Linked DNA regions of Homo sapiens: region 1 is linked to region 2. Evidence: fine-mapped expression QTL. A gene starts in region 2. The other region holds a variant in brackets. All regions are shown on one strand. Distances are between the middles of the regions.

What was found.
Region 1: its variant is fine-mapped to the expression of SYCN in fibroblasts (GTEx, PIP 0.96).

The regions. Positions count from the first base shown.
Region 1 is chr19:38,223,187-38,225,973 of GRCh38, reverse strand. DPF1 (double PHD fingers 1) reads left to right here and starts at 1,752. Exons shown (of 12, transcript NM_001135155.3): 1 at 1,752-1,860. The coding sequence starts at 1,832. RefSeq lists a silencer at 1,418-1,987. The variant C/T (reference allele first, on the strand shown) is at 1,292.
Region 2 is chr19:39,203,049-39,205,858 of GRCh38, reverse strand. SYCN (syncollin) reads left to right here and starts at 1,596. Exons shown (of 2, transcript NM_001080468.4): 1 at 1,596-1,999. The coding sequence starts at 1,605.

The DNA of each region.
Region 1 (2,787 bases), 980 kb after region 2:
GGGGTGAACTGTGCCCAGCACATGATGGGTGCATTTACTCATTCAACAAATATCTACTGAGCATCTATTTTTTTTTTTTTTTTTGGAGACAGGGTCTTGCTCAGTTGTCCAGGCTGGAGTGTAGTGGTGTGATCATAGCTCACTGCAGCTTCGATCTCCTGGGTTCAACCAATCCTCCTGACTCAGCCTCCTGAGTAGCTGGGACCATAGGCATGTGCCACCATGCCCAGCTATTTATTTTTTTTTTAGTAGAGACCAGGTCTCGCTATGTTGCCCAGGCTGTTCTCCTGAGCTCAAGCGGTCCTCTCATCTCAGCCTCCCAGATTGCTGGGATTACAGGCATGAGTCACGGCGCCCTGCTTACTTAGTTTTTTGTTTGTTTGTTTGTTTGTTTGTTTGCTTTTAGAGACAGAGTCTCGCTCTGCCACCCAGGCTGGAGTGCAGTGGTGAGACCACAGCTCACTGCAGCCTCAGCCTCCCAGGTTCAAGCTATCCTCCCACTTTAGCCTTGCAAGTAGCTGGGACTACACTGCTGCGCCATCATGCCCAGCTAATTTTAATTTTTTTTTGTAGACACAGGGGTCTGGATATGTTGCCCAGGTTGGTCTCAAACTCCTGGGCTCAAGCAGTGCTCTCATCTAGGCCTCCCGAAGTACTGGGATTGCAGACTGGAGCCATCGCACCTGGCCGCATTATTCTTTCTTTCTTATTATTTATTTATTTATTTTTGAGAGGGAGTCTCACTCTTGTTGCCCAGGCTGGAGTGCAATGGCACGATCTCAGCTCACTGCAACCTCCACCTCCTGAGTTCAAGTGATTCTCCTGCCTCAGCCTCCTGAGTGGGGGAGTATAAGCATGCGCCACCATGCCCGGCTAATTTTGTATTTTTAGTAGAGACTACTACCATGTTGGCCAGGCTGGTCTCGAACTCCCATCCTCAGGTGATCCACCTGCCTGGGCCTCCCAAAGTGCCGGGATTACAGGTGTGAGCCACTGCGCCTGGCCTGCCAGTCACCTCTTAAAATGCTTTACCTATATTTACTCATTTAATCCTCACAACACTCCAGTGAGGCATCATCCTCTTTTTACAGATGAGGAAACTGAGGCCCAGAAAGGTTAAGTCATTTGCCAAGGTCACATGGCCACCAAGTGGCAGAGCTAGGATTTGAACCCTGGAGGTGTGACTACTGTTTCTAACCTGCACTGCTGCTGTCAGGCCTGCAGAAGGCGTTGAGCAGGGCGGGGTGACCGTGAGCGTGGCTGCTGGGAGAGACAGCCCCGGGTGGGGTCT[C/T]TGGAGCCAGGAGGGACTTGGGTGGGGGGCGGTGAGGGGGTGTCTGCTGGAAGCATGTTGGTGAGAAGTCTGTGTGGGCACCTGGGAGGTGTCTCTGCGTCTCTTAGTATTGCAGTGTGTGTGCGTGTGGCTGTGTGAGTCCGTGCGAAGGTGTGTGAGTAGGAGTGTGTGGGAGGCTGTGAGTATCCGCGTGAATGTGTGTGTAAACTGCCATGCGTGGGCGTGTGCGAGTCCAGGTGTGCATGTGGTTGTGTGCACGCGAGAGCAGGATATGTGGACGAGTGAGGGCGGGTGAGTGACGGTGCGTGCCCCGGGCCCCTCCTCCGCGCCGTCCCGTCCCCGCGGGGTCCCGGGGGCCCCCTGGCCTGGGACTACCACTCCCAGCATGGCCCGGGCGGGCCCGCCCCGTCGCCGCGATTGGCCGTGGCCCTCGTGCTCCCGCCCCCCGGGAATGAATGGATGGGCGGCCTCAGCGCCCGCCCGACCGCTGGGAGGACCGACCCGGCGGGGACCTGCTGGGGGCAGGACCCGGGGAGCAAGATGGCCACTGTCATCCCTGGCCCCCTGAGGTGGTGCGGGCCGGCGGGAGGCGGAGAGGAAGCGCGGGCGGGTCTACGCGGGCCTGTGTGTGTGTGGCGACCGGGGGTGGGGCCGAAGGGGTGTCTGGGGGGCTGTCACCGAGTGCGGGGCTGCGCGGGGGTGCGAGAGTGTGTGACTGTGGGTCTCTGACAAGAATGGTGTCGGATGCACCGCTCCCTGGCGGGGTGGAGGGCGTGGGGGGCCTCCAGATTCTTTTTGGGGAAGGGAGACATCATCCCTTCCCTGCAACCCTCGGGTCTGGGAGAGACTGAAATGACCCGGGGGTGCGGGGGCCTTGGCAACTGGAGTGAAGTCCACACTACCTTTGTCTTGGGATGTGGAGTGTGTGTGTGTATCACTTATTTGTGTTCTGGTTTTTTTAAGAATTTTTGGGGGATAGGTGTGTGGACATGTGTCTGTTTCCTTTTATTCTGCACTAGATATCTTTGGATATTTGGGTCTCCCAGTGTGTGTCCGTGTCCTTTGGAACTATATGTCATTTGTCTTGTGTTCTGTGTTTTTGGGTATGTAGGGCTGCGTGTATTTGTGTGTAAATTTTTGTGTGACTATGGGTGGATTTGGCTGTTTCTGTGTTTTATATGTGTGTGTGTCTGTGTGGATGTGTGATATTTTAGATACTGGTTGCGCATCGTGCATCTTTGTAAATGTGTGTGTGTACCTGTGTGAATCTGTGTGATTTCTTTGTGTTGTGTGTCTGGATATTGTGTGTGTGGTTTGTGTTGTGTCTTTGGATACATGGGTAAGTGCCTAGGGGCGCAAGTGGTTTCTGTAGTTCCTGTCTTTTGACATGCTTGTGTCTTTGGATGCATGAGGGGGTGTATGTGTGTGTGGTGTGATGTTTCCATGTTGTGTGTCTTTGTGTGGGTGATGTGTTTCTGGTGTGTGTCTGTGGATAT
Region 2 (2,810 bases):
CTGGGACTACAGGCGTGAGCCACTGCTCCCGGCCCTTGTTTCATTTCTATTGGCTGATTGGTAAGAGCTCATTTTATATGATAGGAATTGAGTCTATTTTTCCCTGGATGGGTTTGTGGGTTTTGTTTTGTTTTTGCTATATGACAGTTTTTACAGTTTTATACAGCTCAAAATCTATAAAACAAGATTGAAGTTTTATAGATTGAAGATTTCCAACCTTAGTTAAGAAAGTCTCCTGGCTCCTGGGGTGGGAGTTGCAGGCTGTTCCCTCCCTCTCCCTCTCCTAGGCCTGTCCTTAGCATGTGGGAGGGAGGAGTGCATTTCTTGTCAATTTGTATGCACTCTTTTTTTTTGACGCGATCTCGGCTCACTGCAACTTCCACCTTCTGGGTTCAAGTGATTCTCATCCCTCAGCCTCCCGAGTAGCTGGGACTACAGGCATGTGCCACCACGCCTGGCTAATTTTTGTACTTTAAGTAGAGACGGGGTTTCATCATGTTGGCCAGGCTGGTCTCGAACTCCTGGCCTCAAATGATCCACCTGCCTCAGTCTCCCAAAGTATTGTGATTACAGGCGTGAGTCACCGCGCCCAACCTGTGTGCACTCTTTATATATTATAGCTTGCAATGCTATGCTTTTGAAATGTTGCAAATATCTCCTCAAGCCTTTGTACACTGTCTTGCAAAAGGTTTTTAACGTGTTATGCAAATACTGCTATCTTGTACTTCACAGATTCTGGATTGCCAGCCTTGGTTGGGAAGATTGCCCAGTCTGAGCCTGGTGGGGGTGGGGGGTGGGGCGTTGGGCTCCTCCCCATCTCCTTCTCTACCTGCCCCCCCCCGCCCCACCACGAGGGCCTCTATCCTTATCTCCAGCTTCTCCTTTCCCAAGGTCCTGCCTCCCAGGGAGGGAGCCTGCCCAGCCAGGAGGCCCCAGCCTCCCACTCCTGCCTCCCCCTCCCAGTCTTTCCTTATTTAGAATAAGGGTTGTTCCATTCCTTATCTTTTTTTTCCTGTCTTTGTTGCCCAGGCTGGAGTGCAGTGAAACGATCTCGGCTCACTGCAGCCTCGAACTCCCGGGCTCAAGCGATCCTTCCGCCTCTGCTTTGTGAGTAGATGGGACTACAGGCCATGCCACCACGCTGAGCTAATTTTATTTTTCAGTAGGGATGGGATCTTGCTATGTTGCCCAGACTGGTCTCAAACTCCTGGGCCCAAGCGATCCACCCGTCTAGGCCTCCCAAAGTGCTGGGATTACAGGCGTGAGCAACCAGCAAGCCCCTTGTCAATTTTTAAGAGCTCTTCCCATTTCTGTCTATTAACCTATGCCACCCTCTGTGTTGCAAATGACTCCTCCTCAAGTTCTGTCTATTGTCTCTCTTTATAATGTTGTTGGTCACCTAACATCTTAAGGTGCTAAGTTGTATACACAGCGTCCACCTTGTACTCAGGGTTGTGGGCTTCCGACCTAGGTTAGGCAGGTCTCCCGGCTCCTGAGGGAGGGGCGCCCTCCCCTTCCCTCGATGAGTCCTTATCTCGCAGCTTGTCCCTTCCCACGGGTCGGGCGCATAAAAGCGCGCGGGGCTGCGGCAGGGCACTGCCACCATGTCCCCGCTGCGCCCGCTGCTGCTGGCCCTGGCCCTTGCCTCCGTGCCTTGCGCCCAGGGCGCCTGCCCCGCCTCCGCCGACCTCAAGCACTCGGACGGGACGCGCACTTGCGCCAAGCTCTATGACAAGAGCGACCCCTACTATGAGAACTGCTGCGGGGGCGCCGAGCTGTCGCTGGAGTCGGGCGCAGACCTGCCCTACCTGCCCTCCAACTGGGCCAACACCGCCTCCTCACTTGTGGTGGCCCCGCGCTGCGAGCTCACCGTGTGGTCCCGGCAAGGCAAGGCGGGCAAGACGCACAAGTTCTCTGCCGGCACCTACCCGCGCCTGGAGGAGTACCGCCGGGGCATCTTAGGAGACTGGTCCAACGCTATCTCCGCGCTCTACTGCAGGTGCCCGGCCGCCCAAAGCTCCGAGCCCACCCCAGGCCCAGGCCCCAGCTCCGCATAAGCCCCCACACCCACCACCCAAGCCCCGAGGCTGCTCCACACCCCTGAGCTCCCGACTGTAACAGGGAGCACCAGGCCTCCCTAGAACCAGTCCTGGAGGCCCCCATCTCAGAGTCCTCACCCAAACCAGGTCCTCCTTCTCCTCACCCCCAGCACCCGGTCCCCACTCCACCTGCAGCCCAGGCCCCTGGGACGGAGATTTCCGCCCCAGCTCTGAGATTCAGAGCCAACCCTCCACCTTCTGGAATCTTCCGCCTACCCACCCGCCCACAGCTGTACTTCCCAGAGAGGGCTGGCTAATTCTGGGGACTGAGAGCTCCTAGACCCCCTCACCCTGGAGTCCCCAGAACCAAAGCCAGCCCCCACTCCCCAGATCATCACATCTCAAAGCTCCCAGACTCCAAAACTAACCCAGACCTCAAGACTCCAGACTCGATTATAGGAACACCCAGTGTAGCCTTCATGCTCTCCACTCCCCTAGACCCTCCAGACCAGCCTCAGCCCTAAAATCAGTCCCACAGCCCACCCCCAAGACCCAACCCTGGAGGTCCCTGAGGCCACCTTGCACTCACAGACCTGGGACCTAGATCCAGCGGTGACACCCTCCCAAACCCTCCCCAGCCACTCCTGTCCCCCAAGAGCTCCAAGGAGCCCCCAGCTCCAAACTCCCAGGCTAGGATCCCTGGTTCCTGAACTTGGAGCCTCAGACCCAGACTCCCCAGCCCCCACCCAGTCTCAGGCTTCTAGAACTCAC